7 linked regions of the Homo sapiens genome follow. The protein of the gene in region 5 purifies or fractionates together with the protein of the main gene of each other region. This does not show direct contact. Each region holds a gene or a part of one and is shown on either strand. Other genes may lie near its edges.

What was found.
Region 1: the proteins of ZDHHC11 (region 5) and THADA purify together in Homo sapiens (co-immunoprecipitation; one large-scale study listed by IntAct). This does not show direct contact.
Region 2: the proteins of ZDHHC11 (region 5) and PTPRG purify together in Homo sapiens (co-immunoprecipitation; one large-scale study listed by IntAct). This does not show direct contact.
Region 3: the proteins of ZDHHC11 (region 5) and NDUFAF1 purify together in Homo sapiens (co-immunoprecipitation; one large-scale study listed by IntAct). This does not show direct contact.
Region 4: the proteins of ZDHHC11 (region 5) and NRP1 purify together in Homo sapiens (co-immunoprecipitation; one large-scale study listed by IntAct). This does not show direct contact.
Region 6: the proteins of ZDHHC11 (region 5) and ACAD9 purify together in Homo sapiens (co-immunoprecipitation; one large-scale study listed by IntAct). This does not show direct contact.
Region 7: the proteins of ZDHHC11 (region 5) and SLC38A10 purify together in Homo sapiens (co-immunoprecipitation; one large-scale study listed by IntAct). This does not show direct contact.

Annotation. Positions count from the first base shown.
Region 1 is NC_000002.12:43,294,810-43,299,362, reverse strand, and holds part of THADA (tRNA (32-2'-O)-methyltransferase regulator THADA), read left to right. Parts: intron 1-4,553. UniProt on the Homo sapiens protein: Together with methyltransferase FTSJ1, methylates the 2'-O-ribose of nucleotides at position 32 of the anticodon loop of substrate tRNAs.
Region 2 is NC_000003.12:61,568,071-61,572,623, reverse strand, and holds part of PTPRG (receptor-type tyrosine-protein phosphatase gamma isoform 1 precursor), read right to left. Parts: intron 1-4,553.
Region 3 is NC_000015.10:41,389,330-41,393,204, forward strand, and holds part of NDUFAF1 (complex I intermediate-associated protein 30, mitochondrial precursor), read right to left. Parts: intron 1-3,875. UniProt on the Homo sapiens protein: As part of the MCIA complex, involved in the assembly of the mitochondrial complex I.
Region 4 is NC_000010.11:33,215,461-33,220,013, reverse strand, and holds part of NRP1 (neuropilin-1 isoform a precursor), read left to right. Parts: intron 1-4,553. UniProt on the Homo sapiens protein: Cell-surface receptor involved in the development of the cardiovascular system, in angiogenesis, in the formation of certain neuronal circuits and in organogenesis outside the nervous system. Mediates the chemorepulsant activity of semaphorins.
Region 5 is NC_000005.10:816,208-820,760, reverse strand, and holds part of ZDHHC11 (palmitoyltransferase ZDHHC11), read left to right. Parts: intron 1-1,148; coding exon 1,149-1,236; intron 1,237-3,469; exon of another isoform or gene 3,470-4,434; intron 4,435-4,553. UniProt on the Homo sapiens protein: Endoplasmic reticulum-localized palmitoyltransferase that could catalyze the addition of palmitate onto various protein substrates and be involved in a variety of cellular processes.
Region 6 is NC_000003.12:128,903,067-128,907,619, forward strand, and holds part of ACAD9 (complex I assembly factor ACAD9, mitochondrial), read left to right. Parts: intron 1-995; coding exon 996-1,066; intron 1,067-1,319; coding exon 1,320-1,439; intron 1,440-3,054; coding exon 3,055-3,183; intron 3,184-4,553. UniProt on the Homo sapiens protein: As part of the MCIA complex, primarily participates in the assembly of the mitochondrial complex I and therefore plays a role in oxidative phosphorylation.
Region 7 is NC_000017.11:81,288,107-81,292,659, forward strand, and holds part of SLC38A10 (solute carrier family 38 member 10), read right to left. Parts: intron 1,703-4,553; coding exon 1,585-1,702; coding exon of another isoform or gene 1,564-1,584; intron 1-1,563. UniProt on the Homo sapiens protein: Facilitates bidirectional transport of amino acids. May act as a glutamate sensor that regulates glutamate-glutamine cycle and mTOR signaling in the brain. The transport mechanism remains to be elucidated.

The sequences.
Region 1 (4,553 bases), on a different chromosome or scaffold from region 5:
ATTATTGTGTACTTGTTCTTTGTCCTCCCATTGGTCTTAAAGCTCTTTGAAGCAGATCTTTTTCTTTCTCAGCTCTGCATCTCTGTATCTCCCAAAGTACCTAATGCAGTTAAGCTTCCTTTATCCAAAATGCTTGGGACCAAACATGTTTCAGATTTCAGGTTTGGGTTTTTTTTTTTTAAATATTTGCATATATAATGAGACATCTTGGGGATGGAACCCAAGTCTAAACACAGAATTCATTTATGTTTCATACATACCTTATACACATAACCGGAAGGTGATCTTATTTTTCCCTTGGGGACACTGAATAAACTGCATCTGTGTGTTGACTGCATTAGGTCAGGTGTGGAATTTTCCACTTATGGCACCATTTCAACACGTAAAAAGTTTCCGATCTTAGAGCATTTTGGATTTCAGATTTTCAGATTAGAGATGCTCAACCTGTATATGCTTAGGAAATACTTAAAGAGTTAATACTCAAGTCACAGGCAGTGTAGGTCAAGAAGTCCCAAAGGAATGTCTACCTTCATTACACTCATCAGCATGCTTGCTCCCCATCTCCTCCTTCTTTGGGGTAGTGCCTTCATTCCCTGGCTTCCTGGTGATATCATCCCTTCTTAAGGCCCCAGACCAGAAAAATGGGTCTGGGTGTCCAACTCTCAAGTCCAGCAGACTATACTTACACTCAGCCTGGACTATATCCAGAACAGCCCAGATAGTTCTTCCTGTTGTTAATTACAATTTTTTTTTTTTAATTTTTTTTTTATTGATAATTCTTGGGTGTTTCTCACAGAGGGGGATTTGGCAGGGTCATGGGACAACAGTGGAGGGAAGGTCAGCAGATAAACAAGTGAACAAAGGTCTCTGGTTTTCCTAGGCAGAGGACCCTGCGGCCTTCCGCAGTGTTTGTGTCCCTGATTACTTGAGATTAGGGAGTGGTGATGACTCTTAACGAGCATGCTGCCTTCAAGCATCTGTTTAACAAAGCACATCTTGCACCGCCCTTAATCCATTTAACCCTGAGTGGACACAGCACATGTTTCAGAGAGCACAGGGTTGGGGGTAAGGTCACAGATCAACAGGATCCCAAGGCAGAGGAATTTTTCTTAGTGCAGAACAAAATGAAAAGTCTCCCATGTCTACTTCTTTCTACACAGACACGGCAACCATCCGATTTCTCAATCTTTTCCCCACCTTTCCCGCCTTTCTATTCCACAAAGCCGCCATTGTCATCCTGGCCCGTTCTCAATGAGCTGTTGGGCACACCTCCCAGACGGGGTGGTGGCCGGGCAGAGGGGCTCCTCACTTCCCAGTAGGGGCGGCCGGGGCGGCTGGCCGGGCCGGGGGGCTGACCCCCCCCACACTCCCTCCCGGACGGGGCGGCTGGCCGGGCGGGGGGCTGACCCCCCCACCTCCCTCCCGGATGGCGGCTGGCCGGGCAGAGGGGCTCCTCACTTCCCAGTAGGGGCGGCCGGGCAGAGGCGCCCCTCACCTCCCGGACGGGGCGGCTGGCCGGGCGGGGGGGCTGATCCCCCCCCACCTCCCTCCCGGACGGGGCGGCTGGCCGGGCGGGGGGCCGACCCCCCCACCTCCCTCCCGGACGGGGCGGCTGGCCGGGCGGGGGGCCGACCCCCCCACCTCCCTCCCGGACGGGGTGGCTGGCCGGGCTGAGGGGCTCCTCACTTCCCAGTAGGGGTGGCTGGGCAGAGGCGCCCCTCACCTCCCGGACGGGGGGGCTGGCCGGGCGGGGGGCTGACCCCCCCACCTCCCTCCCGGACGGCACGGCTGGCCAGGCGGGGGGCTGACCCCCCCACCTCCCTCCCGGACGGCACGGCTGGCCGGGCGGGGGGGCTGACCGCCCACCTCCCTCCCGGATGGGGCGGCTGGCCGGGCGGGGGGCTGACCCCCCCCCACCTCCCTCCCGGACGGGGTGGCTGCCGGGCGGAGACGCTCCTCACTTCCCAGATGGGGTGGCTGCCGGGCAGAGAGGCTCCTCACTTCTCAGACGGGGCAGCTGCCGGGCGGAGGGGCTCCTCACTTCTCAGACGGGGTGGTTGCCAGGCAGAGGGTCTCCTCACTTCTCAGACGGGGTGGCCGGGCAGAGACGCTCCTCACCTCCCAGACGGGGTCTCGGCCGGGCAGAGGCGCTCCTCACATCCCAGATGGGGCGGCGGGGCAGAGGCGCTCCCCACATCTCAGACGATGGGCGGCCGGGCAGAGACGCTCCTCACTTCCTAGATGTGATGGCGGCTGGGAAGAGGCGCTCCTCACTTCCTAGATGGGATGGCGGCCGGGCGGAGACGCTCCTCACTTTCCAGACTGGGCAGCCAGGCAGAGGGGCTCCTCACATCCCAGACGATGGGCGGCCAGGCAGAGACACTCCTCACTTCCCAGACGGGGTGGCGGCCGGGCAGAGGCTGCAATCTCGGCACTTTGGGAGGCCAAGGCAGGCGGCTGCTCCTTGCCCTCGGGCCCCGCGGGGCCCGTCCGCTCCTCCAGCCGCTGCCTCCCGGGCGGCCGTTAATTACAATTTTAAGAGCAGATTTCTGAGCCATATTTCTGACTGTGCCAAATAAATGAAATTCCTTTTGAATGTAATGCTGTCCTCTAGCAGCAGTGGGTAGGAAGGATAGGGAAATGGTACCTGGAGATGATAGTACTGTGCTCTTATTATTATTAGATTGTTATGAGATTCGGTTTTTAGACATTGAAACAGAGATGACACAGAGGTTGAAGATCCCAGCTGCCCAGGGTTTCCCCCACTGCTTTATAAAGATACTGCCTGGCTGGGCTCAGTGGCTCCCACCTGTAATCCCAGCACTTTGGGAGGCCGAGGCGGGCAGATCACCTGAGGTCAGGAGTTTGAGACCAGCCTGGGCAACATGGTGAAACCCTGTCTCTACTAAAAATACAAAAATTAGCTGGGTGTGGTGGCGTGTGCCTGTATTTCCAGCTACTCTGGAGGCTGAGACAGGAGAATTACTTGTACCGGGGAGGCGAAGGTTGCAGTGAGCCAATATTGTGCCACTGCACTCCAGCCTGGGTGACCGAGGGAGATTCTGTCTCCAAAAAAATAAAAAAATAAAAAGATGCCTCCTGGTGAGCTGGGAATTCTGCAGTGTCTGAGTTAAGAGTAGCGGTATGGCCGGGCACGGTGGCTCACGCTGTAATCCCAGCACTTTGGGAGGCTGAGGCGAGCAGATCACGAGGTCAGGAGTTCGAAACCAGCCTGTCCAGCATGGCAAAACCCTGTCTCTACTAAATATACAAAAATTAGCCAGGCGTGGTGGCATGCTCCTGTAATCCCAGCTACTCAGGAGGCTGAGGCAGGAGAATCACTTGAACCCTGGAGGTGGAGGTTGCAGTGAGCCGAGATCGCACCACTGCACTCCTGCCTGGGCGACAGAGCGAGACTCCATCTCAAAAAAAAAAAAAAAAAAACAGTAGAGGTTTGTCTGCAGCCCCAGATGGTGGCCTCCCTGGGGTCCCATCATGTTGGAGCCCAAGTCCAGTCCCCATTTTGCCCCCTGTGACAGACTTTGAAACAATTTGATGTGTTACATAAATACTCTATATTTTTAAATCTCGAATTATTGCAAGTCTATGCAAATTTTCAATTTCAAATAAATTTTTCTGTTACCTGAATGTTTTACATATGCATTATGTTTATGTTAGTTTTCTAGAAGTCAGCAGAGTTCTCTGAGTTATAATGAGATGATAAATATAAACGGTGTTTTATTAGCTATAAATGCGTATCACTTAAATGCTGTCTGGTAAGCCAATCCAGGATAAACTTGTTAACATCTTGGGTACAGTTGTCAGGATTTATCAGAGAATGCTATGAATATAATATCTAAATTTTGGCAAGGCATTTGGTGAAGTCTGTCATAAGTTCTTGTAGATAAAACTTCATGGACAGAATGATACAATTAAGAGGATTCATAAGTGGGGGATGACTCAAACCGAAGAGGGCTAGTTAATGAATTAGTGAGAGCCTGGAAGAGCGTTTGAGGCAAGGGCCAGCAGGGAGCCTGCTCACCAAAGGCCTCCACCCTCCAGCTTGCCCACATTTTTAGTAATTATTTGATTTTGGGCATTTAGGCATTCCTGTGAAATTGAAGTTTGCCAACTACTTTGTATGCGTTTTTGAGATAGGGTCTCACTTTGTCGCCCAGGCTGGAATGCAGTGTCAGCATCCTGGCTCACTGCATCCTCAACCTCCTGGGCTCAAGTGATCCCCCACCCAGCTGACTTTTTATTTTTTGTAGAAATAGATTTTCACAGTGTTGTCCAGGCTGGTCTCAAACTCCTGGGCTCAAGCAGTCCTCCCACCTTGGGCTCCCAAAATGTTGGGATTACAGGCATGAGCCACCACGCCCAGCTGGTTTACCCAATTTCTATTAGATGATGAACATGTGTGAAGAACTGGGTGCTGGGAGGTACCCGAGACTCCTACCCTAGTCCGCACCCTCATTCCCTAGTCCTGCCAGTTTTATCCCTTCAGTGTTTTTTTTTCTTTCTTTTTTGCCTTTTTAAATGATCACCTTGGC
Region 2 (4,553 bases), on a different chromosome or scaffold from region 5:
ACAGCACCTGGCATGCTCTAGGCACCCAGAAACTTGTTGATGGCATGAATGCAAAATGACTGATTTTTAATGCATTCTTAATTTTTAATTTATTTTTTCTTTTAAATGCAGTATGGCCAAAAGAACATCTGTAGAATTCCAGATAACCCAAATAAATGCCTGTCCTTTCTCCATTTCTCCTTTCCAGACACAAGATCCAGAACGAGCTTCGTTTCTCATTTTAGACAAAGACGTCTGCCCCCACCACTCCAATCATAAATCACATTAGATAGTTTTAAACGCTATACACATAACTTTGTTGACATGAGCAAATCTCCATATTTTTTTTAACTTGGTCTCCAGAAGAAATAAGGTTTCATGTTTAAAAAACAAACAAACAAACAAAAACATAGCTTATAGGCATTCCATTAACCAAGTTCCACTCACCACCTTGTCTGCTACTCCCTCAGGATAATCCGTAGCAAGGTTAGCAAGATAATGGAAGGGTTCTCAACGCCTTAGGAAGCAAACCCTCACAGGAAAAAGTCAACAAGTGCACCTCACAAATCACAGTGTGTCCTGGGCATCTGACTTGCATACTGCAAAAAGACCATAACCCTTCCAAACTGCCTAGCCTGGAATCAACAATCTCTAAAATTCCAGAAAAAAATTTTAGAAGCCATTTAGTGAAGGGTGAGGCAAACAACCCGAAAGAAATTGAGGGTCTTGCCCAAGATCCCACAGCTGGTTTGGCTGGCTCCCATGGCTAGTTCCAAACTCCAGAGGAAAAATGCAGAATCCAAGCCATTTCTTGCCAAACACAACACCCTCAGACCTTTCCTGAAGTTATGATTCAGAGCCTGCTGCCCACACTTAGATGATATACATGGGACAGTAAAAATACCGCATTACTACAAAGTAACCATATTCAAAGCCCCAAACAAAAGTTCTCAAATTACAAAGCAAATCAATTTAGGTAATTTGGAAGAGGAGTAGTGTCAAAAAAAAACTCACCACCAACAAATTCAGACTCTATCCACAGTTATTATCAGCTTATTCAGAAGCTAAAGTAATTTGCTGAAAGGTCATCTCTTCAACGTAACCAAATAAAATCCTATACTAATTGCATTACTTACTTATTTAATTGTAGCAAGTACAGGAAGACACCTTTATTCCACCCAGTGTTCATGGCACTTGCTTATATGGGAAAAGTAACAGGGTGAAATACATAAAAAGCTAGATCTTTCAATTGGCCCTCCTGTGCAATTAGGAAAAATAGTTTCCATACTCTCTTCAAAAAGCAAATGGTCTGAAATAAAATTTAAAAAAAATCCTGAGCAATGATTAGAGAAACATATTACAGTCACCGCCCCCCACCGCTCCCCGCGCCTTGCTACCCCGGTGACCTTGGACCTACCTTCTTCAACTTTAGTTTCCTAACCCTACAGTGGAAATAATCATGGTTCATACTTCCAGGGATGATTAAAAGCATATAAAATGCTCAAGCACGGGGCATAGATCACATGTGCTTGGTAAGCGTAGGCTATTATAATTACTATTCCCATTTTATAGATTAAAAGGGTGAGGCCCATTTGCCCAAGGTAAATGCTGTAATGAACTAAGAATTTCAACCCAGGTCTCTGTGGTTTTGGTGTGGATTCTGAATAAGAGATATGTATATCTGAAACTCCCAGAGCCCCAGCGCCACCCAACCCCACTTCCGTAAGATGTTGGGTAACCACCCTTAGCTACCCACAGACAGAGCTAAGCCTCCACACTTACTGAAGAGAAACGCTTCTGGAAAAGTGTCATTTTAAAAACAGGTAGAACTCATTTATAAATAACCACCGCTTTGTAAATAAATCCTTTTGACAATTCTTAAAAAGTTCTCGAGACAACCTTAAAAAGTCAGTAATATTTCCTCACTAATCTGGACTATGCTTTTATGCTTGGTCAATTGCTTATGGCTGTGTCCCCTTATCCAAATCATTCCCAATTAATGAACAGATCTGATTTAAGTGCACTGCAGGATTCATGAGGCAGCAATGCTATGAAAACTCAAATACCTCTTAGATGTATATTGTAACTAGTATGAATTCCTCAAAAGTATATCCACTGCATTATACAACACCCTGCTTCACTCACTTAGAAAGACAGTATCACAGACCCAAAAATAAGACCAGTTGTCCTATTTTCTTACATGGAAGTGTTACATATTCCATGAACTATGCTTTCATTTTTTTCTTTTTTAGTTGCTAGAATTCAGCAGCCAACTGTGTCACTTTGCTACTCCCCAAAAATAGCTAAACTGAGTAGTTTAAAATCACATTTTGTTGTTTGGCCAGAAAAATATCATGCTGATTTCAGTCTGCAAAAAAAAAAAAGAAAAGATTAGAGGGTACGAGGTGTGCATCAGTGTTTGGTTCTCTCTCATATGCTCTGTAGCTCTGAATCCATGAACATATAGAGACAGGACATCAATGTGTTCAAGTGTCACACAAGTGTAAAATAAAAGCAAACACCCAACTACTGTTTGCTTCCCATCAGTGGAGCCAAATTGAATCCCAGTAATGAGTAACCTATTTCCCTCCATTACCACACTGTCCATAAAGCCTGAGAAGAGGAATTAACATCTGAGGGTGCAGGACTAGGCGACTCTTTCTACACAGGGATTTGGAAGACTTATGAGACACATTTTAAGCCCACAGAAAGCATTTTTCCCACTTTAAGCTGAGAAAGCAGAGACCTCCTTTGCAATGTGGGCAAGGTGATATCTCAGACTTCATGAGGACTTTCTCATTTATTTAAACCTCAAAATGTAACCTGTTAGTAATCTTACATAGAATGTCCCCATGCTGATCCCTACTCCTCCTCACCCTCAACAGCAAAGACAGATACAAAAACCCATCACGTATGTTTATACAATTTTTCAAAAAGTTGTCTATACATACAGTTGTCCTTTTCAGTTCCACCGTCCGCTTTCCATACACTCCTATCCAAATCTCTTAAGAACACTTAAAAACGGTGGCCAGGAGCAATGGCTCAGGCCTGTAATCCTAGCACTTTGGGAAGTTGAGGTAGGAGGATCACTTGAGGTCAGGAGTTTAAGACCAGCCTGGGCAACACAGGGAGAGACCCGGTCTCTATAAAAATAAACATATAAAACTTTTGATTTAAAAAAATGGTTATTGAGCACTTACTGTTTACCATGCACAGCACTAAGTCCTTATATACATTCTCATTCAAGCCTCACAAAGACTTTAGGAGTTAGGCTTCTATCACCACCCCATTTCACAGAGGAAGAAAAAAATAATGAGGCACAGAGAGGGTATGTAACTTTTCTAAGGTAGCACGGCTAGCAATGGCACAGGTAGGCTGGCTCCAGAGGCCATATTCTTACCTATTTTGCTATGTTCTGTATAACTCTCAATAGCCACCTAGTTTAGAAAACAAATAGAAAAGCATTAACAAGTTCCAGGCTCCTAAAAGATTTTTCTTCCTGCTACATGCTGACAAAATAGTATGGCAACTCTCATCAACTGGCTGACACATGAAGTTTTCATTCAATGTGTAAGTTACCTCCATCCCCACACCCACCACAAGTACAAGTGAAACACTACCCAATTCCGTTTGGGAGGCTTCCAAAACAGAAACCAGGCACATATAGAAACCTCATCAGCTGTCATTCCTCTTCCTATCCCTGGAAGCACTTAAAACGAATCTTTTTTTTTTTTTTTGAGACGGAGTCTTGCTCTGTCGCACAGGCTGCAGTGCAGTGGTGCAATCTCAACTCACTGCAACCTCTGCCTCCTGGGTTCAAGCAATTCTCCCGCCTCAGCCTCCCGAGTAGCTGGGACTACAGGTGTGCACCACCATGCCCAGCTAATTTTTGTATTTTTAGAAGAGACAGGGTTTCACTATATTGGCCAGGATGGTCTCAATCTCTTGACCTCATGTTCCGTCCGCCTGGGCCTCCCAAAATGCTGGAATTACAGGCATGAGCCACCATGCCAGGCCAAAAAAAAAATTTTTTTTACAGTTGTATTAAGGGCTGCAATCATAAAAACCTTAGGCCTGCATAGATCCAGCAAGCTATCTCACACAGAATATATTTTTCTGTCAAAACACCAAATATCTTGCCACAAATGATACCAGGTGAAATGGTCCCTCCAATTATAGTTGTCCCAATAGAAGGGGACAATCACTCAAGAAGCCCTCTAGCTACTTAAAGCAATCTTGCACAGCCATCACTTATACCTAACAATCCTTTTCATACTGAGTTAACCACAAATTTATCTGTTCTACATCTCAATCATCACAGACTTTCCTGACAGTGAAATTTACCTGTATTACTTTAAGACATCTTTTAAAGAGACATTAACAATCCCATGTTCTTAGAAATTTGCAACAGGCAAATTGTAGGGAAAAGCAAGGAGACGTAAATACAGGTTTCTGGAATATACTTATCCTTTTTATTGATTTTGTTGGTTACAACTCCACATAAACACAATACCAAAAATAAGTCAAAGCCAAGTCCGATAACTCTTTTTTACACAAGTATAGTTGATTTTTTA
Region 3 (3,875 bases), on a different chromosome or scaffold from region 5:
AATCTGCCAACCTTGGCCTACAGGTATGAACCACCACACCCTGCCTAAATAATTATACAGAAGCTCTCCAGGATATATTCCTAAATTTTAAAAACACAAAAAACAGGTACAGAGTATGCTAATTTTATTTATATTTTGAGTTTAACAAAGGAAGAAAATGGCTGGGCCTGGTTGTGCATGCCTGTAATCCCAGCACTTTGGGAGGCCAACACAATAGGATCAACTGAGCCCAGGAGTTCAAGACCAGCCTGGGAAACACGGTGAAACCAAGACTCTAGTAAAAAAACAAAAAACTTATCCAGCCATGGTGGTGCATCCTTGTAGTCCTGGCTATTCAGGAGGCTAAGGTGGGAGGATCACCTGAGGCTGGGAGGTTGGGGCTACAGCGAGCCCATGCTGCACTCCAGCATGGACAACAGAAGAGAGACCCTGTCTCAAATAAGTAAATAAATTTTAATGAACATAAATAAAAATGAATTATACATATTAATAGTTATTCCAGTAATTTTATCTCTAGGAATATAGCCTATGAAAATAGTTAAGGATGTTTACCTCAGAGTTTGTTCCGACAGTAGAAAACTCTGAAAACAATCTAAATCTACATGTACATAATGAAGAACAAGTTAAGAAAAAAAAATTTTTTTTTTTGAGACAGGGTCTTACTCTGTCACCCAGGCTGAAGTGCATGCAGTAGGGTGATCTCAGCTCACTGCAGCCTTGACCTCCCAGGCTCAAGCAATCCTCCCACCTCAGCCTCCTGAGTAGGTGGGACTAAAGGCACATGCCACCACACTGGGCTAATTTTTGTATTTTTGTAGAGACAGGGTTTTGCCATGTTGCTCAGGCTTGTCTTAGACTCCTAGCTTCAAATGATTCACTGCCTTAGCCTCCCAAAGTGCTAGGATTACAGATGTGAGCCACTGGACCCAGCCAAAATTGTTGTCTACTTATATAATATCATGCAGACATTAAAAATGATGTAGAAATATATTTGAAGAGAAAGTTGTAAACAATAGTTCAGTGAAAATACTGTATATATGTTATAAAACACCACTGGAAGGGAAAAGTGTGACTAGAAAAGTGTAGAAGATACATATTAAAAATAGTATTTTTGTGCCAGGCGCGGTGGCTCACGCCTGTAATCCCAGCACTTTGGGAGGCCAAGGCAGGCGGATCACGAGGTCAGGAGATCAAGACCATTCTGGCTAACACGGCGAAACCCCGTCTCTACTAAAAATACAAAAAATTAGCCAGGTGTAGTGGCAGGTGCCTGTAGTCCCAGCTACTCAGGAGGCTGAGGCAGGAGAATGGCGTGAACCCGGGAGGCGGAGCTTGCAGTGAGCAGAGATCGTGCCACTGCACTCCAGCATGGGCAACAGAGCCAGACTCTGTCTCAAAAAAAAAAAAAATAGTATTTTATCTGCTGGGTATGGTGGCTCATGCCTGTAATCCCAGCACTTTGGGAGGCCGAGGTGGGCGGATCATGAGGCCAGGAGTTCAAGACCATCCTGGCTAACACGGTGAAACCCTGTCTCTACTAAAAATACAAAAAATTAGCTGGGCGTGGTGGTGGGCACCTGCAGTCCCAGCTACTCGGGAGGCTGAGGCAGAATGGTGTGAACCTGGAAGGCAGAGCTTGCAGTGAGCCGAGATCCCGCCACTGCAGTCCAGCCTGGGCGACAGTGCGAGACTCTGTCTTACAAAAATAAAAATAAAATAAAATAAAAATAGTATTTTATCACTGGATAGTGGTAGTACAAGATTTTTTTCTGTACTTCCCAAATTGTTTTTATAATGAAGTAGTTATTTTGTATAATAATTCATTATATATATATTACTTAAATACAAGTATATATAATTTGTGTTATATATCTGTATTACTACATATATATGTATGTATTGAGTGCTTATTTTGTGCTAGGCACTAGGACAAAATTCTAGGTACAGGGGAAACTGGTAGGAACAATATAAGCAAGATCTCTGCTCTCACAGAATTTACAGAATTTAGGGCCAGGTGTGGTGGCTCAAACGCCTATAATCCCAATACCTTGGGAGGCGAGTCGGGTGGATCACTTGATGTCAGGAGTTCGAAACCAGCCTGGCCAACTTGGTGAATGAAACCCCATCTCTCCTAAAAATACAAAAATTAGCCGGGCGTTGTGGTACACGCCTGTAGTCCCAGCAGGAGGATCTCTTGAACCTGGAAGGCAAAGGTTGCCGTAAGCTGGAATCACACCACTGCACTCCAGCCTGGGCAGTAAGAGTGAGACTCCATCTTAAAAAAAAAAAAAAAAAGAATTTATATAATTTATGTTCCAGGGAAGGCAGTAGAGTGACAATAAACAGATGAATGAATGAACAAAGTAATTTTAGTTAGTGATAAGTTCTATGAAGAAAGTTATAGGATGGTGGTGTTGAAATAACTGGATTAGAGGGTCCAACTTTAGTTACAGGAATCAGGAAAGGCCTCTCTGAGGCAACTTTTGAGCCGAGAGGTGAATGACAGGAAAGAGAAAGCAGGTGAAGACATGGGGGCAGAGCATTACAGCAGAGCAACACTAAGTGCAAAGCTCTGAGATGGAAATGAGGTTGTTAAATCTGACAGAAAAGGGGCTGGTGTGGAGGAAGGAGGTAGGAGGAGAGATGGAAGATGAAGACAGGAGGAGAGATGGAAGATGAAGACAGGGGTCCGATATTGTAGGCCCATAGGCCATGTGCAGGAGTTTGGACTTTATTCTTTTTTTTTTTTTTTTTTTTTCTTGAGATGGAGTCTTACTCTGTCACCCAGGGTGGAGTACAGTGGCGCGATCTTGGCTCACTGCAACTTCCACTTCTCAGGTTCAAGCGATTCTCCTGCCTCAGCCTCCTGAGGAGCTGGGACTACAGGCGTGTGCCACCACCTGCTGCTAATTTTTTGTATTTTTAGTAGACACAAGATTTCACCATGTAGACCAGGCTGGTCTCAAACTCCTGACCTCAAGTGATCTGCCCATCTCAGCCTCCCAAAGTGCTGGGATTAAAAGCATGAGCCACCTAGCCCAGCCTGGACTTTATTCGAATTGTAATGGGAAACCACTGAAGGGTCCTGATATGGTTTGGCTGTCTCCCCACCCAAAATCTCATCTTGAATTGTAGTAATCCCCATGTGTCAAGGGAGGGACCAGGTGAAGTTAACTGAACCATGGGTGTGGTTTCCCCCATACTGTTCTAGTGACAGTGAGTTCTCACAAGATCTGATGGTTTTATAAGGAGATTACCCCTTCATTCGGCTCTCATTCTCTTTCCTGCCACCATGTGAAGGAGGATGTGTTTACTTCCCCTTCTGCCATGATTTTATAAGTTACCTAAGGCCTCCCCAGCCCTGCAGAACTGTGAGTCAATTAAACCTCTTTCCTTTATTAATTACCTAGTCTCAGGTATTTCTTCATAGCAGCAGCACGAGAACAGACTAATACAGCTTACATGCTTAGGAGGTACATTTACATGCTTACAAGCATGTAAATGATGTCATCTGAACTATGCTTCAGAAAGATAACTCTGGCTGCTGTGGAGCCAGGATTTTAGTGGGGCAAGAAGACAAACAGGGAAATCAATAATGAAGCTGCTGCAATAATCCAAACACCTGGACCAGGGTGGGAGTAGAAGAGATGGCTAGAAATGGTCAGCTGCTGAGTGTATTTTGGAAGCAGAGGTGACAGGACTCGCTAATAGACTGGATGTGGGGCAAAGGAGAAGAATTCAGGATGACCCTCAAGTATATGACATGAGCAAAATGGGGACTTTCTTGTTGAGTTTTTTTTTTTTTTTTTTTTTGAGACGGAGTCTTGCTCTGTTGCCCAGGCTGGAGTGCAGTGGCACGGTCTCAGCTTACTGCA
Region 4 (4,553 bases), on a different chromosome or scaffold from region 5:
AGGACATTGAAAAGTTAGATATAACCTTGGCTTTATTTTTGATCAGCAGTTAGATGACAGAAAGTTCTAGGTCATTTTCAGAGCATTACAGATTTGTGCTGTTATTCATAAATTTGTAGAAACAAGGCCATTTGAGGTTTGGGTGGAAATTTCTGGCCCATTTCTTCAACCTTATCTCATGTCATTGTATTTAAAAAAAATGAGGTAAACTTCATAAAGACTCCAAACATGTTAGTCAAAATTCTGAATTTCCAGGCTCTTAGAGATTTATGTCACATCCTTTTAGTTGAATACAATTTTTTTTATACCTAAACTGTCCTTTTTAATTTTCACAAGGATTTCCCTGAGAGGTGATGCTAGGAATGTGAGCAAAGAAGGTAAATAATTTGTTCAATTTTTAAAAATAGTTAAATGATCTAGTTATGTAAACTTAGATGTCTAAAATAGCATATCCTAATATTTTCATACATAATTAAGTAGCTATTTTTCAAATAAGGTGCTTCCTTTCAGTTCCTAGTGCTAGTCTCTTAATCATGGTCTCCACTATACTTTTAAATATTTTCTCTCTAGTAAAATGTCTCTAGTCTCCAAATAATTGCCAGAAGCAGGTTTTTGGAGAGGCTAACACGTTACGATAGTCACATGGACAGAAGGCAGGCAGACATATCCAGGCTTGACTGTGGACTGTCCACTTAGTGTATGCATGACGGACCATGGATAAGACATTGAGACTCACTCTGATCTCCGTTTTCTGGTCTGTGAGGATCACCTTAATGCAACTATAATGAGGAGTCAATGAGAGGAAATTTGGAACACCCCTGGCTTAAACTAAGTGCTCACTAAATGGTACCCGTTAGACTAAAATAGTACATGGCACTCAATATATTGAACCTAGCATATGCCCCAGCAAGCAGAGCCTCTAATAAGACAGTAATTTCAAGTTTTTCTTCTTGATTATCAGAAGCAGATAATTTTCATTTTCTTGAAATGAAAATCAAAGGTCCCCTTGAGTAGAGATTAATGAAAGGAGGACTACAGTATTCCTGCTGGACTAGATGGTCCAGGAGAGCAGGGGACCTGTTTGCCTCATTTTCTGTTGTGTCCTGTATGCCTGGAACATAACAAATGCTTGGTGGTTACTTTTGAATGAAGGAAGTGCAGTTTTATGCACGCCTTCTGAGAAACAAGCGGCTGGACCTCAAATTTTCACCCTGCTGAGTAGTCACAATTCAATCTGGATTTTGTTTAAGCCTACCTAATGAAAGGTTACTGCTTGAACACATCACTTGGCTTCCAAAGCCACTAAAGCCCCAAGTTTTACCCTAATTTTTTGATTCAGAAATTATTTTTTAGAAATATAGTAATCCTGGACTGGGCGCAGTGGCTCACTCCTGTAATCCCAGCACTTTGGGAGGCCGAGGCAGGTGGATCACGAGGTCAGGAGATTGAGACCATCCTGGCTAACACAGTGAAACCCCATCTCTACTAAAAATACAAAAAATTACCCAGGTGTGGTGGCATGCACTTGTAGTCCCAGCTACTCAGAAGGCTGAGGCAGGAGAATGGCGTGAACCCAGGAGGCAGAGCTTGCAGTGAGCCGAGATTGTGCCACTGGCCACTGCACTCCAGCCTGGGCAACAGAGCAAGATTCCATCTCAAAAAAAAAAAAAAGAAAGAAAAAAGAAATATAGTAATCCTGGAAAATTCAGAGTTTGTCACCATATAGAGATATAAAGAAAATAAGATTGGAACAAACCATTCTGCTTTATAGGTGATTGATGAAGGGCATTTTCATTATTTTGACAAAGTAGGCTTCATCATTTTGGCAGAGATGGAAATCACGTTGGGCAATGGCTGCTTAACACACTCTGAACTCTGCTATCTTCTGTTATTAACCAGAAGTCTGTTACCCAGCGCTTCAACACATATTCATGTGCTCCTAAGTCAATCAGAATTCACAGTGATGATCTCAGACACCATAATATCCAGAGGTACTTTCTGAGTCATCAAGGAGAGATTAAATTATGCTCATTCAGGGTCTCCCATCGAATGCAGTTATTACTTTCTCATTCGTTGGAAATTGGTTAACTGGATATTTGATTTACCAGTATACCTCAGTTTTTCCATTAAAGCTGAGTACAGAGATTTACTGTAAAATAATATCACTGAAAATAACGACCTCAATCCTCCATTACAAAACTCATTTCTCCCTTCCATCCTGAAGTGGTCTTAAGCTTTCCAAACAAGGCTGCCAAGTGAAATACAAAATGTCCAGTTAAATTTGACGCAGACAAACAAGACATAATTTTTCAGAATAAGTATGTCCCATGCAATATTTGAGACATATGTGTACTAAAAAATTATTCATTATTTCTCTGAATTCTAATTTCACTGGGCATCTTGTTTCTTGTTTTGTTGTTTATTTGCTAAATCTGGCAACACTATTTCCAAAGGGTTTGACCTGCACCGGGCTGACCTGTACCAGCCTGCTATGAAGGGACAGAGTTAAACGCTAGCATCTCATTCAAACCTTGAATTAATTGTTAATGTAATTTTTCTGCAAATTATTGTTAAAAGTGAGTCACATAGTTTTCAGTCAAAGGTAAATCAAGTTGCCTCTTCATTTTTTTTTTTTTAATGAGGCAGCTATATGGAAGGAATAACAGTCTCACTTTGCACCATGGATATGTTGGCTAAATGGGGACAGGGCATCACTAAGTCTATGAATACAGAAACTGTGCCCCAGCCGAGTCTGCATTAGAGAAAGGGCATTAATCTGGTGACGGTTCTGCTCTCCTTACAGTATTCAAGTTAATTATGTTTGCCTCCAAATGGTAACATCTGGTCCCCATTACCAGCTAAACATTGCCTTTCTAAAAGCTTGTTTGGAATCAGGCAGGTATGAACACCGTGGCCAAAAAATGGCACTCTATTTTTAACACTACAGTTTCATAGTCCCTTAGTAAAATTGTTTTTGTAAATCTTTTTTTAATCCCGACTGAGTATATTCTTGGTTTCCAGATCCCAGCCTGGAGCAAATACTGTGGTTAAGTTACAGGAAAGGGCAATTGAGAAAATGACAGCTGCCTTTCATTGTATTAAGTTGATTCATTCAACAAATATTTGTTGAGCAAATACTATGTATAAAACAGGGCATGAAGAGTCATATAAAACAGAAAAATATGACTTAGTTCGTGTCCTCAAAGAAGTTAAAATCTGGGGAGGCAGAAAGCAGCATTCCAAAGAACTAAATGTGCTCATCAGCATTTGAGGGCTGGATATGGTGGCTCAAGCCTGTGACCCCAGCACTTTGGGAGGCCAAAATGGTAAGATCTCTTGACCCCAGTAGTTTGAGAGCAGCCTGGGCAACATAGCGAGACCAAAAAAAAAAAAATTGCCAATCATGGTAGCATCCACATGTAGTCCTAGCTACTCAGGAGACTGAGGTGGGAGGATTGCTTGAGGCCAAGAGTTCAAGGCTGCAGTGAGCCATGATCACACCACTCCACTCCAGCCTGGGTGACAGAGTGAGACCCTGTCTCTAAAAATAAAAATTAAAAAAAAGGCCGGGGTGTAGAGGGGCCAGGCGCCGTGGCTCACACCTGTAATCCCAGCACTTTGGGAGGCCGAGGCAGGCATCACGAGGTCAGGAGATCGAGACCATCCTGGCTAACACTGTGAAACCCCTCTCTACTAAAAATACAAAAAATAAGCCGGGCGTGGTGGCAGGCGCCTGGAGTCCTAGCTACTCGGGAGGCTGAGGCAGGAGAATGGCGTGAACCCGGGAGGTGGAGCTTGCAGTGAGCCAAGATCGCCCCACTGCACTCCAGCCTGGGAGACAGAGCGAGACTCCTTCTCAAAAAAAAAAAAAAAGAAAGAAAGAAAGAAGGGAAATGCAGATAAAATGGTGTGAAGAGGCCCAGAAATGGAAAACTGTGTCCAGTTGCAGAGAACAGAAAAACTGAGTAAACGATGTGGCATTTGAAAACAGGTCAGGATTTTAAGCAGTTCAGATAATGGAAAAGGGTAACATGACAGGGAATTCCTTGTGGAGGGAACAGAAAGAAAGCTCCCAAACTCCCAGAAGTAAGGAAGTTCTTCATGCCAATTGGCACTGGTTAAAGGAGTGAATGGGGAGAGGCCTTGCAAGGACATGACATGGAAGGCCTGCATGCCTGACTGAAAATGACGTGCGTAATTTCTAGACAAGAAGGCACTGAATGTCTGAGTAAAGAAACGACATGATCTGGACCATAGAACTCATGTGGAAAGTATCTGAGTAATGAATTCTTAAGGTTCAGCTGATAATGTGGACTTAGTTTAATTGCATTAGATGTTTGCCTCTCACTTAGGGGTAGTTATATTTTTAGGCTAAATTTTTATTATATAACGCAGAATTGAGTTGCTTCAAAGAAAAATAGGTTATCATTCTTGCACATGTTCTTGATTAGGATGTACAGTTTCTAAAGGAAAATACTTGAAGTGTTGGACATTTTGTCATTAAGCCAGCGTTGAATTCATCAACAACTGATACTCTCCTTGTGCTCAGAAGC
Region 5 (4,553 bases):
ATATGAGCTTTCAGATGACTTTGTCCAGTTCCTAGACACATGAAATTCAAGTTCCAGTTACATTAGTTACACACTTTCCATTGGGAGGGGACCACATCACAGCCCCCACAGAGAGGCAGCAAAGGTCCTGGAAGTCAGAGTCTCCACCATGGCCAGAAAGTGGAGTGCAGCCCCCCTTCCCCAGGTGTGCACCAGCCCCACCCCTCACAGACACCGGCAGGGGCTCAGCCCACAGCTTCCTGGGCAGAAGAGACAGGGCCTGTGTCCCTGGAAATGTCACCATCCCTTACTCCACAGCCAGAGGGCAAAGGGCTTCTTAGATCAGGACAAGGCCCTGTTGGTAATGATCACAACTGCAGAGAATTCATGCAGACTTTTGCTTAGTTCAGCAGTCAAGGTGTATGGCTTACTGGGAAAAGTTCATTCCCTTTCAAACGACCCATTAAGTCTTCTATGAAATTGCTTTTCTTAGAAGGGTAATTGGCAAAACTACTGTGTAGATCCGAAGCACTTGAATATCACTTCAAACTATCATGTAACTATGGTCTTTTAAGTAAAATACAAAAATGCTTTCTCTGTGATGCATTTTGGGCAAGATTAATAGAAATGTAACTATAACCGGAATTACAAACTTTCTCTCTAAAACCAAAACAAAAGGAAAAACTAAAGTTGTGTAATGATTGCCAAATCGACATGTATATGTTGTAGAAAATTAGGGAATGGCAAGGATTTCCAGGTAAAAATGAAGGTCACCTGACCCACCTGACACCCCTGTGACATGTATGATGTGCTGTTTTATAAAATTACAGTCACCTTGTAGCCCAGTGTAGACCAGCTACACTAACGGAGGACACTACCTGTCTAAGGCACTGGTCTAGGGTGGGGCTCGCAGACTTCAGGGAGGTACTGCTTTACAGAATCCAAGTGGGAAGGAGTCCTGGTCCTTTACACGAGAAGCTCCTTCTGTTTCCCACTGTGCAGTAACCCGGGAGCACTCACACAACCTCCCGGGAGCTGCTGGTCTCCAGTTTCTGAGACACATGGGCCCCACTGCAGTGGTGCTTACAGGACACACTGTAGCCTCCAGTGCCATCCTGAGCGCCCTACAAAACTGTGGTGTGTTTCTTTCCTTCTGTTTGCCCCACCAGAGCCAAGGCCAGGAACTCCCGGCTGATTTGCAGGCGCCTGTGTCAGTTCTCCACTCGTGTACACCCAGACGGGGGCTCGATGGCACAGGTAAGTTGCAATCACTGGCGCTGTCCCCGAGGACAGGGCCATGTGCAGAATGTGTGGTCTGAGGTCCCCCAAGCTGAGGTTAAGGTAGTATTCAAAAGGGAAGCACTCTGTGTCCAAGGGTGCTGCTCACATGGGAATGATGGTGGGTGGAGCACAGAAGAGAGATGGAGTGAGAGGCAGGAATGCTTCCCAGCTGTGGGTGAGAGAGACAGACGGGTACCAAAGTGGGAGCCCTCAGCACTGCAGTGCCACCATCAGGCTGCGGTGATGGGCAGATGCCCAGGGCAGGCTCTGAAGTGCCCAGAACATGCAGTGAGGGACAGTGCCGTGATAAAGGATGGAGGGAAATTGGTAGCCATGGCAGAAGCTGTGTGCTGTGGTTTTAAAATAAAATGCTTAGGAAAGACTGTGTGTAGGAGACAGATGGGAATAGAGATGTGTTTGTGGTCACATGTGCACGTATGTGTTGGTGTGGTTTTGTGTGTGGTGTGTGGTCATGTATATGTGTGTGAATGGTGTGTGTTTGTTACATGGATACATGGACTCTGTGTCCGTCCTTCACGGGAAAAGCCCTGTGTGGCTACCGGCTTTAGGGCCACATATTTCTGTTCCTGCTCTGGGGTCAGCTTCCAGCGGTTTCTACTGGGTTGTTATTTATTTTTTGGAGATGGGATCTCACTCTGTCACCCAGCATGGATTATAGTGGTGGGATAATGGCTCACTGCAGCCTCCACCTCCTGGGCTCAAGCGATCTTCCCACCTCAGCCTCCCGAGTAGCTGAAACTACAGGCGTGTGCCACCACACCCAGCCAATTTATTTCTTATTTCTTAAGAGATGGGGTCTCACTCTGTTGCCCGTGCTGGTTTGGAACTTCTGGTCTCAAGCAAGCCTCTGGCCTCAGCCTCCCATAGCAGGGCGATTACAGGCATGAGCCACTGTACTAGGCTGTGGGGGAATCCATCTGAGAAGGCTTTGTGAGGCGGCCAGCTTCTGGAGGTTACAGGTGTCTTCTCCTTCCCTGTTGGGGCAGGGCCGCCTCACCACACTTCCCCAGGACTTCAGGGAACAGGCTCTTGAGACTTGGAAATGAAAAGGGATCAGCCAGCCTGGAGGAACAGCGACGCTGGCGTCCAAGCCTTGCCCCTTCCCTGCACTTCCAGCAAAGATATGGAGACACTCAGTGGAAACCGATTGGGCCCCCAGCCTGCCCCGCCCAGACTCACCCACCAACGTTCCCTCACTCCATGTGGCACACAGGCTCACAGGATTTTCTCTGCCTGCAATCGTCCACATGCACACCTGCTGCCGGGGTGCAATTGTGAGTCCCCTCGGTCTCTCTGCAGCATCTCGGTGTAGATGACGATTTACAGTCACCCTTGTGTGAAGCCACATGAGGCCTGGTCTGAAGCAGAGAAGATCCGCTCAGCATCACGTTGGATCCCAAGCCCGCGTCTCCGTGGGCTCCAGGACAATCCTATGAAAATAACACCGTCGGTTCATTGTTCACATCGGGGAGGAGAATTCCATCTGAAAATGCACGTGACTTCACTGACACCCGCGTCCGTGGCACAGCCCTGTGCTGAGCTCCACAGACCTACAGTCCATCGCCTCCCCTTCGAGAGGGCCCAGGGCTGCAGACAGCGTTGTCCATAGAAGACACCCTGACTCGATGAATGGAACAAACTGGAAACTCCAGAAACAAGCCCTTCTTTATATTTCTGGTGTTTGGCTTAAATGGAAGGTGCCAAGGTGAGGCAATGGGGAGACATGGAAGGGTGTGTAATGAGTGTGCTGCAGCAGCTGCATAACCACATGCCAAACACACACACACAGCTCAGTCCCACCTAGAAAGCAGTGCACAATCCATCAGAGACCTCATATTTAGAGAGGAAAGTTTAACCTCCCTAGAAAACTCACAGAATATGTTTTTTTAATACTAAATATACAGTTGTCCTCTTAAATTGGTTAAGAGCACAAAACGTAACAGGCAGAAGGTCTGTTTCAAACAAATTAAAAAGCTATGTTTTTTCAAGTGTGTTTTTAAAGTTTTCCCCAAGTGAGATATATACATACCCACAAAAATAGTGTGTGAAGGAAAGCTGTCATACGGAAGGAGTTGTGTCCTGAATTCTTCAAGGAAACACATATGGAAATATGAATTGATAGAGACAGCAACACATTAATAATTTTTTAAAATTGAATCTTAAAATGCTGCATGGCACAAAGCTATAGTATAAAGTATTGATAAGTACAAAGGGAAAAGTCTGTACAGCTTTTAGCAAAAATGCTTTTGCAGAAAAGCAAATTAAAATAATGCAAACAGCATACCGAGGTGGCCACAGCTTGACCTCAGAGCTACAACTTCTCATATCTGTGTCAGAAAATCCTATGTATCCAGAATAGAGTAAAATTTCAGGACAAAACATGGACTTTTTAACAGTTCTTACTTTACCCATTTTAAGTTATTTTTATCTCCCCTACCCCCCAGGGCAGTAATTCAGCAAGATCCAGCAGAAAGAGGGCTATTTGATGTTTCTTCCCATGGGGAGAGTGTCAGGGAGCCTGGACATTTCAGGCTCATGCATCCATGACCAGTCTCCCACTGGGGTCAGAAAAATTCAGCCATAGACTTGGTGAACTTGGCTTCCCGCTGCTGCTTTGTTCTCCTGCTGATGAAGGTCAGCTTCAGGGTGTATCTGCCATCAAACCTTTTAAGACTGGAGGGCAGCTCCCAAATAGCATCAGAATCCACTCCTGTAGGCTCTTTTCTGTGGGCCACGAGAAAGATGGTCTTCTCCTTAGATGAGGTCTAAATAGTCAGAATTCCCATCATCACAAAGCCAAAACGGGCTTGGACTCTGGAAAGGGATGCATATAATCCCAAATCACAGCCACTATGGCAAAGCAACAGGAGATTGTACAGATGGTGAGGTGACCGTCAATTAGACAAAAATTCTCCACGTATTTGTATTTTTCCAGAAGTATCTTTTTGGCAGAATCATCCAGAGTTTTTCACAGCTGATCCATCCCACTTGTCCGTTTTTCCAGGCATATCACTTATCTTCGACTTATCCACATGCCGCTACGGCCACTGCCTGTCCCGCAGCTGGAACCCCCGCCAACCCCACCACCGCCTGCGCTACCGCCCCCCTCCCGCCCGTGCAGCTGCTGCCGCCATCTGTCCGCCTCTGAGTCTCCCTCCAGAGAATATCTTTGTGATCTTCTGTTAAGCAATGTCTTCTTTGATAGATCCCAAAAACATTATTTCCGAAAAAAGAAGAATAAATGTGACTTTAAGCATTTAAAAATTTCCCTT
Region 6 (4,553 bases), on a different chromosome or scaffold from region 5:
GGAACCCAGGTCCCTGGGCCCCTGGATCTTACCTTTGTTCTATTCTGTCAGAATACCCCAAACCTCCATTTTCCTTTGCCAGTGAACTTAGAACAGCCCTGTAACCATCCTGGTTGTGGTGGAAGCATTTGCGGGGAAATGGGGGTACCCGGGGCAGCACACCCCTAAGTGCTTTATGAAGCTCCTCTTTGGTGCCAGGCTCTGGGCCTGTTTTGGCTTCCCTCCATTTTAGAGATGAGAAGACAGAGACTCAGAGAGGGCAAGCGATTTGTTCCAGACTGTGCTCCTGGACCCAAAATGAAAGCTGTCAGGCTCCAGGCTCAGGGCTCTTCTTACTCAGGCACAAGGCCTCTGGGGAGCTCCTCTGCTGGGGCTCTGAGTGGGGCTCGGCCCTCTACACCTCCTGAGTGCACCACACCTGGGAGAGCCTGTGGAGGACATGGCTATGGCGGGGCGGGGGTGCTTCTGCCTGGGAGAGGCGCCATGTCACTCTTGGGCCCTTAGAGCTCAGCACTTTGTCACAGCCACACGCCTGGAAGCCCCAGCCTGAGTATTCAAGCCAGGCGGCCCCACCTGCTTTGGTCACTGCACGGGGTGTGAGCCTGCACCACCTCTGTCTGGGGCCTCTGTGCCTGGCTTTGTGCGAGGCGCCCTCCCCCTTCCACCTGGTTGCATCTTCACAGCGACTCTGAGGTGGGGGTGGTGTTCAGGGAGGTGTCGCACTCGGCCTGAGGCACAGCCTGTAAGAACCATTGCCAGGATTCAAGTCTGTATCTGATGCCAAACTCTGTGTGTGGGTGCCATGAGGAGGGGTGGTTCTCCTCTGACCCACGGGTGCTGGCAAGTGGGGGTGCCAGCTTCTGGGGTATTTGACCTCAGCAGACACGCTTCTCACAGTGCCCACCTGTGGGAAGGGTAAGGATGATGGCCATAGGAAATCATGTTTGAACCACAGAAATATTCCAGTTCATTCTAATAACTCTGCTCTTCCTCAGAAATGACTGCTGAGTACGCCTGCACAAGGAAACAGTTTAACAAGAGGCTCAGTGAATTTGGATTGATTCAGGTACCAATGGTTGAGTACTGTATTTGTGCATTTCACTGTGTGACATGAACGGTGTGTTCTTTTGATGTCTCTGTACTGGTGACTTCTGTGGTGATTTGGGAAGAAGACTAGTTAAGGCTTTATTTGACACGGGTCACTGGGCTTGCTTCTCTTGGGCATTGAGGCTTCTGACTTAATTACTTTCTCTCCTGTTTCACAGATTTGGCTCTCAGCACATGCAAATTGTTTCTTGTGTTTTTTCTGAACACTCCAGGAGAAATTTGCACTGATGGCTCAGAAGGCTTACGTCATGGAGAGTATGACCTACCTCACAGCAGGGATGCTGGACCAACCTGGCTTTCCCGACTGCTCCATCGAGGCAGCCATGGTGAAGGTAACCCTGGCATAGCCAGAGAGCTGGCGCTGGAGGGAGGCTTGGGAAATCTCCCTCACTGTGACCTTTCAAGCCCATGCTGTTGCCTGTCATCTTCCTCCTGTCATTGATCCAGTATTTATGATGCACTTGCCCTGTGTAGCACTCCAGGGATAGGCAGGCAGCGGGGAGCAGCAGTAGGGAAGTGTCCAGTGGGCCAGTGGATCAGTAGTTTATAGCAGAAGGAGACCGTTATGATAATATCCTTTTAGAGTAATAACATTGCATCTGGCTTGTGTGAGAAAGACTTCTTTTTTCCTTAGTTTATGGCCTTCCTACTTTCTGGTATCAAAACTTTATCTTAAAAACTAAGCATATGGCAGGGCGCGGTGGCTCACACCTGTAATCCCAGCACTTTGGGGGGCCGAGGTGGATGGATCACCTGAGGTCTGGAGTTCGAGACCAGCCTGGCCAACATGGTAAAACCCCATCTCTACTAAAAACACAAAAAATTAGCCGGGCATAGTGGCGGGCACCTGTAACCCCAGCTACTTGGGAAGCTGAGGCAAGAGAATCACTTGAACCCGGTGGGGGCGGAGGTTGCAGTGAGCCGAGGTTGTGCCATTGCACACCAGCCTAGGCAACAAGAGCAAAACTCCATCTCAAAAAAAAACAAAAAACAAAAAACATGTATGAGCCTGGGCAACATGGCGAAACCCCATCTCTACAAAAAATACAAAAATTAGCTGGCATGGTGGCACACGCCTATAGTCCCTGCTACCTGGGAGGCTGAGGTGGGAAGAGCATCTTATTTGGTTAAGGTAGATACTAGAATTTGCTTTTGTTTTGTTGAGGGTGGAGGGTGTCATTTTTTAGCTGTAATAAAAAAGATGGCCACACTTGGGGGGACCCTACTTTGTGCCCCCCACAATTGTTTTTAAGCTGGTCTCTGGAATTGAGCTCTTGAGAGAAATAGTGAGAGGTATGGCAGCTTACAGAAGCAAACATCCTGGTGTCGGCAGGAGAGTCTACCTAAAAGGTTGGGATCCTGAAGTGGCAAGGTCCCTAAAAAAATAAAAAATTAAAAACAAAAAGGCTGGGCATCTTGGACCGTGTTTGAGTCTTTTCTAGGTGCAGTCTGTGTACTGGGTGCATTTGCATGTGTTTTATCATCTCGTTTTCTTGTCACCCTTGAACAGTGACCACAGACATTAGTTTGCTGTAGGCCAGCCTCTTCCAGATGCTAAGCCTAGGGCTAAACATGGCAGTATGTTTGCCCCCAAGGCACTTATAGTGTGCACAGACAGAAAGAAATCACGGCCGCTGGGGCTTGGCAGGAACAGGTCAGGTTTTCTCGGGAAGGGGAGATCTTAGGTGGGTTTTAAAGGAACAGGAGCTCAGCCAGGTGCAGATAGGGTGAAGGCAGGCCCAGAGGTACAGAAGGTCATGGTGGGGTAGGGAACACAAGCTGGCCAGTGTGGTCACGGAAGGCAAAGGACTTGACCACATCACCCCTCAAGTTCCTCCCTGGCCGATCTCCTCCCCAAGCCCGTGTGCCTCCCATGCCTCCCCAGCCACCCAGCTCCCTGCAGCGTAGGTCCTCCTTTTGGAAAGGATTCAGTGTGACACCCCACAGGTGTTCAGCTCCGAGGCCGCCTGGCAGTGTGTGAGTGAGGCGCTGCAGATCCTCGGGGGCTTGGGCTACACAAGGGACTATCCGTACGAGCGCATACTGCGTGACACCCGCATCCTCCTCATCTTCGAGGTGAGTGGCCCCGCCACCAGCTAAGCTGTGCTCCACCCCCACCCTGCCTGGTCCTAAAGATGCTGCTCAGGGCCTCGCAGAGGCCCCCGCAGCCCAGGGCTGGGTCGCATGCTCTCAGGGGCTCTCCTAGCCCTGGCACGTCTCCTTCCCGACTGCTGCCCTCCATGAAGTCACAAGCCTGAGGAGTCAGTTCAGTTAGCATGTGCCAGGTGGCAGGGGAGGGAACTGGGGCCACAGAGATGACTTCGGATGCTGTGTTCTGATTGTGCAGCAGGGCCGACCAAGGGAGATGACAGAGTGTAAAGAGGCAGGGAGCGGGCATCCTCCAGAGGCAGCCAGAGTTTTGTGAAGCATGCGCTCCTGGCCCCTAGGGGCAGAAAGAAAGGGCTTCAACCAGGGCCGGGTGGAGGGCAGTTTGTCCCTAAGGGCAGGGTAATAGAGCGCGCCAGGCCCAGATGGGACTGATCTGCTGGCACAAGGTGAATGAAGAGAGAGTGAAGGGCTTTCTGGGAGCAGCAGTCAGCCCTGCTAGGTGGGCTGGGGCAGGCAGTGGGTTTGGGGGTGTTGAAGAAGGTATATGGGAAGGCTAAAAAAGTAGCCAGACTGTGGAGGACCTTGATTGACAGCAGAGGAATTTGGAAGCCACAAAACGTCTTTAAGCAGGGCATTATTTGGTTGTATCTGTGTTGTGGGAAATGCCCCCAGGGGCTCAGCAAGTGCTGGACATGTGGACGGGGCTCATGTGGAGAGTGAGTTGCAGGGATGAGGCCGGAGACCAGGGGCTCTCCTGCTGGGAGGGAGGGGCTGGACCTAAGAGAGCACAGCAGGATGAGTGGGATATGATGGTGGGCATGGGTATACAGGAGGCAGGCCTGAGACAGGGAGAGGGTTTGGGCCTGAGCAGCAGGTCTGGTGATGAGAGGCATCATCAGCCTCTGGGAGTGTAGTCTTGTCTCCTGGGCCGTCCTGCCCAGTGGGAGGCCTCCTTGGCTGCTTTTGTTCCTGGCCTACCCATTGGGTTCCAGCCATCTCCACTGTTGCAGTGGACATACGGGGCAAGGGCCAGCCTGAGGGCACTGGAGTGGTCTCAGCCCTGCAAAGGGTCTTCTCCAAAGGCCCTTCCCTTAGCCTGGGAGGGTTGGGGTTCTCCAGGGCTGGGGTGGTCAGCAGGGTTCAGGAAGCCCTCAAGGCCTTGGAAGAACACAGGGCTCTCGATGTAGGGTGAGAGCTCCTGTCTGGAGCCTGCTCGGAGCTGGGTGGTCCTGCCAGGAGGCCCCTGCAGTCCCCCCTTTTCCTGTAGGGAGTCCTGCTGTCCGTGATGTCAGCCTGACTGCAGGGGACAGTCCTCAGTCCCTAGTGCTGGCTGTGTA
Region 7 (4,553 bases), on a different chromosome or scaffold from region 5:
GGAGGAGAAGGAATACATCCCCTCCGGTTCTGAGGGCCGAAACGAACGCAGGACTCTCTGTGGCAACATGAAGGGGACTGGGAGGAAGTGGAGGCTGGGAGGCCAGGACCCACGTGTGGACCGTGCAGGTGTTTTTATTTTGTTTGGCCCCCTGGACCCCTAAACACCATTTCCTCTCCCGCCACCTCCTCACTCTGCCGCGGGAGCTGTGAGCCCGGGGGGCAGGATGGCCTTCTGCAGGGAGGACCTAACATCCCAGCCGCACACTGGCTGGAAGGTCCAGAGCCTTCATCACAAGGCCAGAGTTTTCACCAAAACCCACAGGGCCAACTCCTGAGAACACGGATGCTGGAATTTCAACACCCAGGCTGGATGCCCCCAGAATGGAACGTGGAGCCGAGAGGTGCCGAGCCTGTGGCGGGCAGGGAGACAGCGCGGGCCACACAGCCTGTGGGCAGACGGGAAGGTGAGGGATGGCGCCCTCGAAGACAAACAACGTAGAAAATATTCCACACTGAAATGAAGCAGAAAGCGCAGCCTTCTCTCCTGGCTGAAACAGCATTAAAGCAAGAAAGAACTAAGGGAAACAAAACTGCAACCAACAGCATCAGGGGAAGGACACAGCCACTGGGAGAGGAGCCACTGAACTCCAGCAACAGCCCAGGCCTGAGGAGCTTCCTCCATGGAATTCCGAGTTGGGGAGAACAGCAAGGCTCTCTGCAGGCAGCTCCGCAGGAAGGCATCTGGTGTCCAGGAGAGACACAGAGAGAGCAGGTCTGCACCAGCACGGTGAGGACGGCTGTCTTGGTCTGAGTTTAGAAGAGGAAGCTTGTGTGGACCTGCATGGGAGCGGGCAGGAGGGCATGGTGACAGGGAGACCTGGCGCCTCATACCCTTCTGTGTCACTCCAATTTTGAAGCATGTGATTATAACAGGTTTTTCTTTTTTTTTCCAGACAGAGTCTCACTCTGGCACCAAGGCTCGAGTGCAGTGGCGTGATCTCAGCTCACTGCAGCCTCCACCTATCGGGTTCAAGAGATTCTCTGGCCTCAGCCTCCTGAGTAGCTAGGATTACAGATGCCTGCCACCATGTCTGGCTAATTTTTTGTATTTCTGGTAGAGATGGGGTTTCACCATGTTGTCCAGGCTCGTCTCGAACTCCTGACCTCAAATAATCCGCCTGCCTCGGCCTGCCAAAGTGCTGGGATTACAGGCACGAGCCACCACGCCCGGCAGGTTTTTTTTTTAACTGCATTTTTTTTTAATTTGATTTTTAATTCTTTTGAGACAGGGTCTCGCTCTGTCACCCAGGCTGGAATACAATGGCGTGATCACAGCTCACTGCCACCTCAGACTCCTAGGCTCAGGTGATCCTCCCACCTCAGCCTCCCAAATAGTAGCTGGGACGACAGGCACGTGCAACCACACCCGGCTCATTTTTTTGCAGCATTACATTTTAAAATAAAAAAAACCCTGCTATCCAAGGAATTCTTGAAGAATCAAGTAGAGTAAATAAATAAATAAATAAATGGAATAAGGCCCCCGCCCCAGGTCCAGAGCCACCTTGTGGAGAGGGCGCCTCACCCAGGCCGGCGTAGGTCCTCCGCTTGCTCAGGCTGGCCGACTTCACCAAGAACATGCACGACTGGTGCGTCATCCATGAGCAGAAGACCAAGAGCAGCGCCCCCAGGACGATGCCGCACTGCAGGGTGGAGACAGGAACACATGTTCACAGCAGCAGGTGCTCCCCAGAGGCCCTCACCCCACACACGCGGCTCATGAGGACCCTCTTCACCCCCAGGCCCCGCTCCATCCCAGTCTCCTGCCGAACGCGACACTTCCTAGCACTGAAAGGGCCATTTCCTTGCTGTGGTGGCCGCGCGCCTTGTCCAGGGATGAAGCTGTATGCGCAGAGCACAGGGGTGCCATCTCCTTCCCAGTCCCCACCTCAAGTCTTCATGGACAGCGGGGTGCTGCCAACTAATACCCCCTTGTTCTCTGCACACACCCTACATGCACCATCTTTAGCCACTTAAGTCCACAGCTACAAGTAATGAACACATTCTGGAAGAGATTAAAAATGCCATTTTCCCCGTTCTCATAAGTTAAATAGACACTTACTGTGTGACCTGGGGATTAACTGCACCCCTAGGTATTCACTTACCAAGAGGAATGAAAACGTGTTCATGAAAAACCTGTATGCCAATGTTTACAGCAGGTTTATCCACAACCCAAAAATGGAAAAACAACCCAAATGTCCTTCAACAAGCGAATGGATACAAACTGTGGTCCATTCGAATAAGGGAATATTAGTCAGCAGGAAAAAGGGATGACTACTGACACCCACCATGACACGGATGGGACTCAAACGCACCATGCTGAGCAGAGGAAGCTGGACTCTGAATGCTACAAACAGTGTCATTCTGTTTACAGGAAACTCAGAAAAGGCAAACTTTTAGGCCAGGGAACAGCTCAGTGTTGCCAGGGGCTGGGGGTGTGGAGATTTGGCTGATGACAAAGGGGCACATGGGGACCCTCTGGGGGATGAAGCTGTGTGTTCTGTTTGACTGTGGTGGTTACACAGCAAGCCCATGACCTGCACCCTAAAAAGAGTCAATCAGCCGGGCACGGTGGCTCACACCTGTAATCCCAGCACTTTGGGAGGCCGAGGTGGGCAGATCACGAGGTCAGGAGATCGAGACCCTCCTGGCCAACATGGTGAAATCCCATCTCTACTAAAAATACAAAAATTAGCTGAGCATGGTGGTGTGTGCCTGTAATCCCAGCTACTTGGGAGGCTGAGGCAGGAGAATCACTTGAACCAGGGAGTCAGAGGTTGCAGTTGAGCCGAGATTGCGCCACTGCACTCCAGCCTGGCGACCGAGCAAGACTCCGCCTCGAGAAAATAAAAAGAGAGTGAATCTTCCTGCATGTCCACTACCTCCATCGAGGTGACACTTAAAACACAAGGACCGCCACACTAGTGCGAGACGTCAGTCACGTGAACCTAGCTGGACGGTGAGGGGGGCGGGGGCGCTGCACTTTCCAGTCTGTTGTTCTGTAGACTTAAAACTGCTCAAACACATAAGTCCGGCTGGGCACACTGGCTCACAACTGTCATCCCAGCACTTTGGGAGGCCGAGGCAGGTGGATCATTTGAGGTCAGGAGTTCGAGACCAGCCTGGCCAACATGGTGAGACCCCCACCTCTACTGAAAACACACACAAAAAATTAGCCAGGCTTGGTGGTGGGCGCCTGTAATCCCAGTTACTTAGGAGGCTGAGGCAGGAGACTTGCTTGAATCTGGGAGGTGGAGGTTGCAGTGAGCTGAGATTGAACCATTGCACCCCAGCCTGGGTGACAGAGTAAGACTCCATCTCAAAAAAAAAAAAAAAAAGTAAGTCTATTAATACCAAAAACTCATGAGATATCACCAAGCACTCATCAGAATGGCTCCAGCGGAAAAGACACGATACCCAATGCTACCGGGGATGCGGGCCGGCATGTGCACCACTGCACCCACATGGCAGCTCCAGAGCGGAGCACACGCACCCTGGGGCCCGGCCACTCCACACAGGCACGCACCCAGCAGAAACCACCCCCTGCCAACGCCTGTCCAACTCCTCAGGGCATCACAAGAGCTCCCAATAGGAGACACCGTAAATGCCTCACAGGGGTAAACTACACACAGACACGCATGGCGGTGCAGCGGACACCAGAACGCAAGCCAGACACTCGCACTAGACACCTGCACAGCAGGACCCACCCACCTCAGTTCAAACCAGGCAGCACCACCGTGGCACACTAGGGGTCAGCAGTGTGCCCCGGGTAGGCCGCCACGGCCACAGAGTACGCTCCTTAATTTGGGAGCTAGTCACACGGGTTTGCTCGTCATATGAAAATTCATCAACAGCACATCTAAAGAAGTGTGTACACATTTTTGTATGTCAAACTTCAATGTTTATTATATATATAATCTATATAGATCTATATCTATATCTATCTAGATATAGATATAGATATATATTTTTGTTTGTTTGAGACAGAGTCTCACTCTGTTGCCCAGGCTGGAGTGCAGTGGCGCGATCTTGGCTCACTGCAAGCTCCACTCCCGGGTTCAAGCGATTCTCTTGCCTCAGACTCCCTAGTAGCTGGGACTACAGGCGCCTGACATCGCGCACAGCTAATTTCTGTATTTTTAGTAGAGATGGGGTTTTATCATCTTGGCCAGGCTGGTCTTGAACTCCTGACCTCGTGATCCACCCTCCTCAGCCTCCAAAAGTGCTGGGATTACAGGCGTGAGCCAACACGCCCAGCTATGTATATATATAAATATATCAAAACTACTAAAACAAAAAAAAAAACACTAATCCAAAGTTTTTCAATGCCAAGGCTGCCAAACACTAAACACACACATCCCCAAATCGCCTGCTGGCGTCTCCCTGCGCCCCAGTCCAAGAAGGCTGCCGTGGAGGAGACGCTGCGGCCAGATCAGAGCAACTGGGCCTCCCTCTGGGCAGCCCTCAGGACTCAGAAGGACGTCTCTAGTCCTT